4 separate regions of the Homo sapiens genome follow, and all the other regions are linked to region 1. The links come from fine-mapping of genetic effects on gene expression. A gene starts in region 1. Each other region holds a variant in brackets. All regions are shown on one strand. Distances are from middle to middle.

Region 1 (2,610 bases):
CCAAAGACTCTCAGCTAGACAGCAGATGGGGAAGGTTTTCCTGACTCAGTGGATGTTGAATTTCCTGAGTGGGTCCTGTCCCCTTCCTTCTCTGTGCTTCTCCCCTCAGTGCTCACCGAGGGCCTCTACACCAGTGAGCGCCCATCCAGGGCATCCCCGGGCTCTCAGAGAGGCCGTTGGCCATCAGCTCTTGTGGGGCTGGGCTGTGTCTGGGGGTGTGCATGCCATACAGATCCCAGATCCCAGAGGGCCCAGTTTTGTCTCCCCTCTGCCCGCCCATCCTGCCCCTACCTTGACATAATCATAGAAGCAGCCTTCAGAAGGCTCCAGGTCAAACTGCTGGAAGACGAGCTTCACCCTGTATCCCGTGGGGACTGTGATCACAGTGGTTGTTTCAAAGTTGTTGGGGTAAGGCTTGGGGAACAGAGGGGAAGTCACCTCCCCAAATAACTTCTGAGGGATGGGAATGGAGCCTCCTGCCCTGCAGAACAGGGCCGGCACCAGGAGGTACAAGAGCCACCTGCCAAAACAAAAGAGAGTATCTGGAGCTGGAGGGGTTCAGCACTCTTGCCATGTGGGCAGTGGCTGTGGCAGGGGATGAGACGGCCATACCACTGGGCATTCTCCTCTCTGCCCACCCTGAACCTCACAGACATGTTCTCAGCAGGGGTGCGTGGGTGGGGAGGATGGCCTGTGCAGCTGCTGCATCGGGTCACTCTCCAGGGCAGTGTCCAGTCCAGAGGCCACCACACTCCCCTCACACTCCCTTTCCAGCCTCCTCCCCTGCCCGGACGCGTCCCTCCCCTCCCCTTCCAGGAATAGGACTGGCTTGGGACCAGTTAATGGAGGGTGAGGGTTTCCACCCGTGGGTCTCTGAAAGGGCTCCCACAGGTTCAGCAAGAGCGTCTGGGAGAAACCATCTGTGGAGTGGGGGACACAGGCACAGAGTGTCCCGTCCTGGGCAAGGGGTCCCCTCCTCTCGCTGCTCCCTGCCAAGAGCCCAGAGGGAAGAAAGGACCATGGCATGAGCATCTATGTATGAAGTCTCCTCTGATCCCTAGGAGGAGGGATGGGGCGTGTGTTGTGTGTGTCCACGCGTGTGCACAGTGGAACTGATGAGGTGTGTGAAGAGAGAAGGGTGTTCCTGTCTCCCTGAATTGCCTCCCATGCCCTGGCTTCTCCCCTGGCTTCTCCCTCCCACCTGGTTGCCCATCACCCTTACTCACATTTCTCAAGGCCCGTGTTGAATCCTGGGCTCTCCCGACAGCGTCTTCGTGCACTGTGTGCAGAGGGAGCCCGCGTCATGCACAGCAGGGAGGGGAGGGTTTTCTGTGGAGTGGAGGGGGGACCATTCCCGGAGGAATGTTGGAGGGAATGAACTATTTGCATAAACAAAAGATCTGAGTTTCCACTTTAATTTAGTTTTGGTTTTGAAATCCCTGTTTGTGGTGCCACCTGCTGGTCGGTGAGGGAAAGGGCTAAGGAGACGGGAGTCTGGCTTTTTAGGGCCCGGGGAGCCTTGGGTTGGAGGCCCAGATGTCTCAGTCTCTAAATCTGATCAGCTTCTCCCTTCTTCCAAGACTTTCCTGGGGGCTGCTGCTGTGTTTACAAGGTTCCTACCAAAGCAGTGGGAGACCACAGGTGGTGGTGAATTCTCTTTTCTGGGCTGTCCTTTCCCATTGACCCTGTTCTTCCTGCCCTCATTCAGCCCACAGCCCTGGTCCAAGAATGGCCCGGGTTTCAATGCCCAGGACGTAATGATAGGAACACTGGGGCAGAGGAGGGTGTGTGGGAGCGGGCAGAGGAGAGAGGAGCTTGGTTGCCTTGGGGCCCTGGCCTGCTTTAGCCATGAATGACACTTGGACATAGAATAGGGTTGGCCATGTCAGGGCAACCCTAAATCAGCCCTGGGTTTGAGACCCTCTGGGGCGGCTGCGGAGGGGGTAAAATGTCCCCATCTCCTTAGCATCTGCTCAACACAACTGCCAGGGCTGAAGCTAAGGATGCGGGTGTGGAGCAAGAGGGACTCGGTTTTTCTGAGATGAAGCCAGGCCCCTGGGAGGGAGGAGGGACCCTAGTCTCTCCTGTCCATCAGGCCATAGTGTCCTGCTTTAAAACTTTTGCTCTTGGCCACGTGTGGTGGCTCATGCCTGTGATGCCAGCACTTTTCGAGGCCAGGGTGGGAAGATCTCTTGAGCCCAGGAGTTCGAAACCAGCCTGGGCAACATAGTGAGATCTCGTCTCTAAAAGTTAAAATAAATTAAAAAACAATTTCATTGTTTTTGGAAGGCTTTCTTCATCAACTCTCCATGGCACCAAATATCTGATGGCACTTCATCCCACGGAGGGGCTTGGGCTGCAGAGCAGGACTCTGCGTTCTTAAGCCTTTGTAGGCTGTTCTGCTTGTTTCCCTTATTAGATGAATCCCTCCAACCTCCACCCTTCTGCCCCCACCCCCGTTCATCCATTTATGGGCTACCTGTTTAATGTGCAAGACACTTTCCCAGGCAATAGATTGCAAGAATTCACAGAGCTGATGCAGTTCCCCATCAGGCAGTGACCACATCATCAGTAGTTAGACAGCAGGCACACAGAAGGTGCAAGATCCAC
Region 2 (2,706 bases), 34 kb after region 1:
AAGAAAGATTAGGAGGCAGGACACTCAAAATGCTTCCCATCTCACTCTGAATGGGCTCCCCCTTTTACTCCACAGCAGATACTGTCTGCTGCAGCCCCTCCACTGAGCGAGGGAGCTGCTCTGATTCAGCAGGACTCCCTTTCCACCCTACTCTTTGTTTTTTGTGTTTTTTTGAGACAAGTTCTTGCTCTGTCACCCAGGCTGGAGTGCAGTGGCAGGATCTCGGCTCACTGCAACCTCTGCCTCCTGGGTTCAAGTGAATCTCATGCCTCAGCTACCAGAGTAGCTGGGATTACAGGCGTGCACCAACATACCGGGTTAATTTTTGTATTTTTAGTAGAGACAGGGTTTCTCCATGTTGGCCAGGCTGGACTTAAACTCCTGAGCTCAAGTGATCCGCCCGCCACCGCTTCCTAAAGTGCTGTGACTATAGGCATGAACCATCACACCCAGCTTTCCACTCCTAAAGGTCACCGAGGGGGGCCCAAAGTTGTCTACAGTGACCTTTAGGGGAGAGCAGGGGTGGTAGCAGGATAAGTAGAGGTGAAATTGGGGAGGGCATTTATGAAGAATGGAGACTTTTTCCTCTGGATACTTCTGGCTGACCTAGAGGGACTTTTGAGAAAAAAGAGAGATTGGTTGGGAATCCTACCAGGTAATCTCATTTCTCCTCTTTCTCGGTTTCAAGAACAGCTGAAGTATCCTTAGAAATAAAGGGTCAGCCCCTCTGGGCCTGAGCATTCCAATCAACCTTTATTGAGTTCTCCTTTAGGATAGGCCCCAAACAAGGAGCTCAGAGTCTTGAAGAGATAGAGGATCAGTAAATAGGTAACTGTGACACCAGGCAAGAGTGAGGGATGGCAGTGGGGCGGGCAGAGTGAAATCTTTAAGGAAGTTGGGAGTTAATTAGATTGGAGAGAATGGGAAATTTCTAGCAAGGAAAGAAACAGCTAGAAATAGCGGTAAAAGAGAAAGGCAATTAGTTCTGAAGGGCTCTAACCTAGAGTATATGTGGTGGAGGCAATTGAAGAGTTGATTCACAGAGACCCTTGTATGCTGAGTTAAGTGTAACAGATGATGTAATGTAATAGATCATCACTGAAAGGGTGTAAGTCAGAGAGTGACATGATCACATTTATGTTTTAAGTAGACCCTGTGGCTACAGCATGCAGATTAGAGGAGGGTTAAGCGTGAGAACCAGCTGGGTGCAGTGGCTTAGGCCCGTAATCTCAGCATTTGGGAGGCTGAGGCGGGAGAATCACTTGAAGTCAAGAGTTTGAGACCAGCCTGGGCAACACAGTGAGACCCCACCTCTAC[C/CAA]AAAAAAAAAAAAACACAAAAACACAAAAAAGCAATTTCAGGCACCAGGAAATGAAGGCCTGAATTAGGGTGGTGATAGAGAAAGGTTAGGAGGGAACACAGGAGAGCCATTTAGAAGAGTGATGCTCAACAGAAATAAAATGGGTCAGGAGCCATATTAGAAAAGTAAAGAGAAATAGGGGAAATTAATTTAAATAATATATTTTAGTTAACCAAAAATATTCAAAATATTATTATTTCGGCATGCAGCCAATATAAACATTTCCGAAATGCTTCTTTTTATTTGGCATTGTCTGAAAGTCCACTTACAGCATCTAGATTTGGACTAGTTATATTTCAAGTATTCAACGGCCATCTGAAGTTAGCAGCTGCTATACTGGGTAATGCAGAAAAGCTACAAAGATTTCTTGGCCGATTAGATGTGGTGGTGGTGGTGGTGGTGGTGTGTGTGTGTGTGTGTGTGTGTGTGTGTGTGTGTGTGTGTGTGTGTGCTGGGAGCCTAGAGGTAAGGAAACAAGAGATATTGACCATGACTCCCAGGTCTCTGGCCTGGCTGGTTATTGCCATTAGTGGAGAGAGTAGATATAAAAGTGGGGTAGGTTTGGATAGGAAGACAGTGAATTTGAATTTGACCTTGGCATTCAAATGGAAATTGGTTCCAGGACCCCCACCTCACTAAATCTGCTGAATAAAATGGCTTAGTATCTGTAGAGAAACTACATACATCCCCCTGTGTACTTTATTATTATCATTTTGATACAGAGTCTTGCTCTGTCACCCAGACTAGAATGCAATGGCATGATCTTGGCTCACTGCAACCTCTGGCTCCCGGGTTCAAGTAATTCTCCTGCCTCAGCCTCCCAAGTAGCTGGGATTACAGGCATGCGCCACCATGCCCGGCTAATTTTTGTACTTTTGTATTTTTTTTTTTTTTTTTTTTTGAGATAGAATTTCGCTCTTGTTGCCCAGGCTGGAGTGCAGTGGTGCGATCTTGGCTCACTGCAACCTCTGCCTCCCAGGTTCAAGTGATTCTTCTGCCTCAGCCTCCTGAGTAGCTGGGATTACAGGCATGCGCCACCATGCCTGCCTAATTTTTTGTATTTTTAGTAGAGATGGGGTTTCTCCATGTTGGTCAGGCTGGTCTCGAACTCTTGACCTCAGGTGATCCGCCCGCCTTGGCCTCCCAAAGTACTGGGATTACAGGTGTGAGCCACTGCACCTGGCCTAATTTATGTATTTTTAGTAGAGATGAGGTTTCACCATGTTGGCCAGGCTGGTCTTGAACTCCTGGCCTCAAGTGATCTGCCTGCCTCAGCCTCCCAAAGTCTTGGGATTATGGGTGTGAGCCACCACGCCCAGCCTTTTCCCATATGCTTTAAATCATCTCTA
Region 3 (2,706 bases), 30 kb after region 1:
CAGGCCTCTTACTTGGGGTACTTAAGGCTAGACCAGATGGGGTTCCTGCATCTTAGGGAGTGACATTAGGGTGGGGGAAAGGTACCAAAATGGCCATGCCTCTGCTGTCTCTTGGGATCTTGAGATCTGTGGTGGCCTCTAGGAGTTCTCTGCTGCCAATAAGTGGTCCAACCATGTTACAGGATTGGACCCGGGATGGCCTTTGTGCTTTAGAGCTGAGGCACTTCCTGCTTCTACCTGAGCTCCTTTTCAACATATAGGCCTGGGCACGTAGGCGTCAGGGTCATGTGGGAGGTGGAGGCCGAGGGGAGAGGTGGGCAGTGGGGAGGGGTACACGGCTAGACCTTGTTGCTCTGCCTCCTCTTGGGACCCCCCAGTGGGATGGAGCCCAAGTCCTTGGGCAGCACATGGTCCTCTGCTTCACAGGACACACACCTGTACCCATCCTCCCCATCCACTTTTGCTCAGTTTATTTTGGGGACAGGGCTCTGAATTGACCTTTGGTCTTTGCAGACTCTCAGGGACCATCTGGAGTTCCAGCTGGAATCTGGGCCTGGTGGAGTGGGAGTGGGGCAGGGGCCTGCATTGGGCTGACTTAGAGAGCACAGTTATTCCATCCATATGGAAATAAACATTTTGGATTCCTGATCACATCCCTGGAGTTTAAGACTCTGGCCAACCAAGTCAACTCCACAACTTTGTGTGTCCCTGGGAGGGTCTGGTGTGGGACCCACCTGTCTGTGGCCCTCGTCCCCTCCCCTGCCCTTTCTCCACTCACATCTTGGTCCCTCTGGTGATTATCTCTTCCCTCTGAGGACAGATGGAACCTGATTTGAATGAGGGGTAATGGTCTTGTGAGGACCAGGACATGGATTGGGTGTGTGTTTATATGTGTGTGTGTGTATGTGTGTGTGTGTGTGGTGGGAATGGAATATCAGAGAAGGTGGTGGAGGAGGGAGGATTGAATTTGGAGAATCCCTGGCTTCTAGTGTCCGCAGGGGAAACAGCAGCTCCAGCTTCCCACAGCGGTCCCCTCCCCTCTGCAGGTCGAGCTCCCACCCTCTTGGAAATGCCTCTGAAGCTGCATAGTCCTCCCCTGATGCTTGTGCTCCCTTAGGGGATCTCCAGGCCTTTGGGTGTGGTCTGGCCCCTGGAGAAGTGTGGTCGAGTGGAGGATGGGGTCCTGCAGTGGCCATGTTCTGGACGCCCACATCACGGGGAGTTTTGAGGGATTGAGCCCACTTTAGCTTGGGTCTTAAAACCACCATGGTAAGAAGTGTCAACCTTTGGGGGAAAAATAAAAATATATAGAAATATTTAGAAAAACCCACCATGGGGGCCT[A/T]CAAGTTCCTGAGTCAAGGCCTCTGCCGAGACTCCACTGACCAGCATGGTCACTGAAGGGCATGGAGGACCGTCCTGTGGGAAGAGGCTTGGACATGCACTGTGAACTCAAGAGCAAGGACACTGTGTTGATCTGGAGATGTGGGCAATGGGCGAGTACACACGGAGCATCCTCCTGTGCCTTGGAATGGGACAAGGTGGATTCCAGCAGCCCTCAGAGCTTCTGCTGGGTGGCTTTGCAAAGAAGGGGCTTTCCACTCTACTGTGGACATCTGCAGAGATTGGGCAGGGAATAAGATTTTCCATTCAACCCTGAGTTCCTTTTTTTTTTCTATTCCAAATTCATTCCAGAGCATGTGGTAGGATCAGTATCACAAGCCCCTAGTTCTTGGCCAGAGCCCTAGTGACTGTCTTGTGTGCATGGGGGGGCCAGCCGTTGCAGGAAGATGGGTCAAGAGTCTTCATCTGATGAGGGCCAGGGACTTTCCAACTCCCTCAACCCTTCCCCCAGGCTCTTTTCCCACCCTCACATTGAGCCCTCTTCACTCTGATAGTTGGGCCCCCTAGGACTTTTATTCTGAAAGAGCCAAGGCCCCTGGAGGTGGAGAGGAGGCCAGAGGCTGGAGCTGGCCTTGACCCTGAGCCAGCTCCACCCTTCTGGGCTGTTTTCCAAGGCAGCAACTCTGGGACCCTTGCTGTCCTCAGCTCTCCTCTTTATCTCTGGTCTCCAGCCTTGCTGGCCTTTGAGCAGAGGGTCCCTATAGCCAGGACTGCTGGGCTTCTCCCTCCTATGCCTTCACACCCCTGTATTACTGTCTTTTATTCCTTGACCTCACATCCTCCGTCTACTTCCTTTTTCAGCTTTTTCTGGCTTTCTTGCTGCTTGCCCTTCCCAAAGCAGACACGGAGGACAGGTCACCATTTAGAAGCTCCCCGCCTCCCCAAGCACTGGACAAAGGTCTTACCCCATTCCATCCCTCATTCCCAACACATAGGATGGAAGTATCAAATGGCCAGATGCCTTCAGATGTCAGAACCGTGGAGTCCGTTGAACCCTGTGTGTGGGGGGCTGTGTCTTGGGCCTGGTTTTGTTGAGCACATGAGACTTTCTCAAGGATAAGGACAAAGAAATGGACAAAAAGACTCTGCCAGTAGCCCCTGTTTAAACTCTTGAACCCCAGTCACAGTTTTCCAGAAGTCCATCAGGATAGAATTTTCACTAATCGCCAAATGCCCAAAGCTTAGTTCTTTCTTAGAAGGAAAAGAAGAGGTCAAATGGACAGGAGAGAGCGGAGATTGGTTGTTCTCAGGGGCTCCTTCCCTTTGCCTGCTTCTTTCATTTGGGACGCCAGACCTTGACCTGGA
Region 4 (2,706 bases), 22 kb after region 1:
AAGTATAGCTGAAAGGCCGATGTAGAAATGAAAATGGATGTCTGAATTTGGGGGGACTTTTTTCTAATAGGGTAACCTATTAGAAATCATCCTGGTCTGTCTAGAAATGAGGTTTTCCTAGGACATGAGGTTTTCAACACTAAAACCAGTTAAGTTCCCCGACACGCCAGGACAGTTGGTCACCTTATTGCTAACACTTCAATCATTTACTTCAGTTCCCTTTCCCTTACCCAAGTGTCCCTAAAGAGCATAGGCCACCTCTGCTCTATGTTAAGGCCCCCAAGTGCAGGTAAGGGAGCTGGGATTCCTGGCATGCTAAGTAAAGGTAGCAAGCTACCAAATTGTAAGGATACTATGTTTACAAATATAGAAAGCACCCGTGAGAAAAATCTAAAATAACTGCTTCCTATTAGAGTATGGGGTTGTGGATGATTTAAACCATGTTTCTCTGTTTAGTAAAACTTCTTTAATATTATTTAATAACTTTGATAGTTACAAAATAAATGTATCTGAAATTATAATTGTGACCAGATGGTCCTTTCTGAGCCAGACAGGATTAGAGAATGAGGGGATGGATCCTTTAATCGGCATCTTTAATCCACATGATTAATGAAGAAGTTTTTGTCCTTGCATATAAACTTAGGCCAGGCATGGGTCTTTCCAATCTTAGCTGGGCAAACAAGGTTGGGGTGCTCCAGTGACTTTATTTTTGGTTTTATTTTTGAAAATCGTGTTGGTGCTGCCCCCTTCTGTCCTGAAAGGGGAAGGGCAGGACAACAGAAAGTGCCTTGGGGCTTCCTGGCCAGGGAGTTTCTCTGCAGCCTTCATGAGCCCCCAGCATTTAGAGAGGAGCTTGCCCTCTCCTGGAATCCAAACAGCCACAGGAGAGCCCAGGCAGAGGAGTCTGGGGCAGCACGAGCCATTTCTGTCCACAGCTTCCCTGTCTTATCTCTAGATACCTTGCCCTGGGCTGGGACACGTGGGGGCTTTTGTGCCCAGTGCCAGGTGAGGAGGGAGATACAGGAGCGAGGTGAAGAGCAGCAGGGGTGATGAGGCGGCTGAGTCAGCCAGACTGGGACCCTTTGCTTCTGTCTGGCATGGCCAGTGGAGATGTGGA[C/T]AGCCCAGGGCAGAGGGGTGACCCTAATGGGTCACACTCCTCCACCCCCAAGTTATCTCAGGCTTTCATGTCAGGGCCTTGACTTCCATGCCTTATGGACACCTAGGCAGTCGCTAGCTCAACCCCAATGGAGTGTCAGCCACTAGGTTTAGCCCTTAAGCCCATCCTCCCTACTCTGCCAGTATCTAAAATCTCAATCAATCGTGCCCCTTCCCAGGTTAAAACTTTTCAATGACTGTGCCTCCTGATCCATGAGATGAAGCCCCAGCCACTTGTTTGTCTCGTCAGGTTCTTCCTTCATAATCAGGCTCTGCATGACTTTCTGGCTTCGCTCTCCACCGCTGCCGCCTCGCATGTGTGTTCCAGGCGCGGTCATGATGCTATGGCTTCACAAACATGCCTTGCGTTTGCATGTGTGACTCCCCGACCAATGCCGTGTTCTTCAGTCATCAGCATAACATGCTGCTTAAAGGAGTGGGCTTGTGTGCCACACTCACCAGGTTTAAACCCAGGCTCTACCATTTAAAAGTTTGGTGACCAAGGCCAGCTTACATAATTTCTCTGTGCCTCTTAACATCCTCATCTGAAGAACAAGGATGAGGACAACGGTACCCACACCAGAGGGTTGGTGTGAGGGTTAAATGAGTTAATAACCAGAATTGCTTAGGGCAGTGTCTGTCATTTGGCAAACAATAAATATCATTACTTGCTTAGGAAGCAGAATAGAATAGCAAAATGGTTAGATCAGTGGTACTCAACAAGGAGCAGTTTTGCTCCCCAGGGGATATTTGATGATATCTAGAGATTTCTTTTTTCCATTACTGGCATTTAGTGGATACAGGCCAGTGATGCTGGTAAGCATCCTAGTGCACAAGGCAGCAGGTCCCACAACAAAATGTTACCTGGTCCTGAACGTCAATAGGGGCGAGGTGGAGAAACTGAGGGTTGGGTGGTCAGGCTCCAATCTGTTTGGGTTCAAATCCCATCTCTGTCTTTTATTTCATGTATAACCTTTGGCAAATTACTTAAAATTCTCTGTTCCTTAGTTTTCTTATCTGTAGAATGGGGACAATAACCTGTGCTTGGGTTCCTGAGAAGAGTCAGCGTTCGGCATGTAGTACTCATGCCCTGGATGCCGGCCATTTTTACTCACCTCTCTCCCCGTGTCCTCTCCTCTGGGAAGCCCTCTTTGACTCAGAGAAAATGACTTTCCCTGTGCTCATGGACTCTTGATGCATGATAACCTCCTGCCCGTGTGTCTGTCTTTCCCACAGGGCTGTGGGTTCCTTGAGGGAGGAATTTTGTCCTGCAGGCTGTGGCAGCCCTAGGACTCAGCACATCTAGGTGTCCACCTGCGTCTGTGGGTGAGTTCTTGGGATGGGGCAGAGTGGGGAGTATGCACCAGGTTTTGGAGTTTTCAAGGTGTGCAGGGAGGAAGAGAAGCAGGTGGTAGACAGGTGCATCTGGGAGATGGGGTTGGGTAGAGTTTGAGGGTCTGAACACGGCCCTGCCCCATTTACTATTCTCTAGTGAGAAGCCTGATCATTGCCACGTGACCGCCTCCTCACTGTTGGTACCTGGTTGTAGAG

Evidence for each region. PIP is the estimated chance that this variant, and not a neighbour inherited with it, causes the effect.
Region 2: its variant is fine-mapped to the expression of C1R in whole blood (INTERVAL, PIP above 0.99).
Region 3: its variant is fine-mapped to the expression of C1R in whole blood (TOPMed, PIP above 0.99).
Region 4: its variant is fine-mapped to the expression of C1R in whole blood (TOPMed, PIP 0.98).

What each region holds. Positions count from the first base shown.
Region 1 is chr12:7,091,161-7,093,770 of GRCh38, forward strand. It overlaps C1R (complement C1r), which reads right to left and starts at 1,285. Exons shown (of 11, transcript NM_001733.7): 1 at 1,227-1,285; 2 at 292-520. The coding sequence starts at 1,228. RefSeq lists an enhancer at 1,333-1,627.
Region 2 is chr12:7,124,752-7,127,457 of GRCh38, forward strand. All of the region lies in intron 2 of RBP5 (retinol binding protein 5), which reads right to left. Among named protein-coding and RNA genes, the nearest start is that of RBP5, 2.8 kb to the right of the region's middle. The variant C/CAA (reference allele first, on the strand shown) is at 1,318.
Region 3 is chr12:7,121,199-7,123,904 of GRCh38, forward strand. It overlaps RBP5 (retinol binding protein 5), which reads right to left. Exons shown (of 4, transcript NM_031491.4): 4 at 2,488-2,706. It overlaps C1RL-AS1 (C1RL antisense RNA 1), which reads left to right. Exons shown (of 12, transcript NR_026947.1): 12 at 514-653. Among named protein-coding and RNA genes, the nearest start is that of RBP5, 6.3 kb to the right of the region's middle. The variant A/T (reference allele first, on the strand shown) is at 1,343.
Region 4 is chr12:7,112,739-7,115,444 of GRCh38, forward strand. C1RL-AS1 (C1RL antisense RNA 1) reads left to right here. Exons shown (of 12, transcript NR_026947.1): 7 at 2,392-2,481; 8 at 2,648-2,706. Among named protein-coding and RNA genes, the nearest start is that of C1RL, 4.9 kb to the left of the region's middle. RefSeq lists an enhancer at 529-1,030. The variant C/T (reference allele first, on the strand shown) is at 1,118.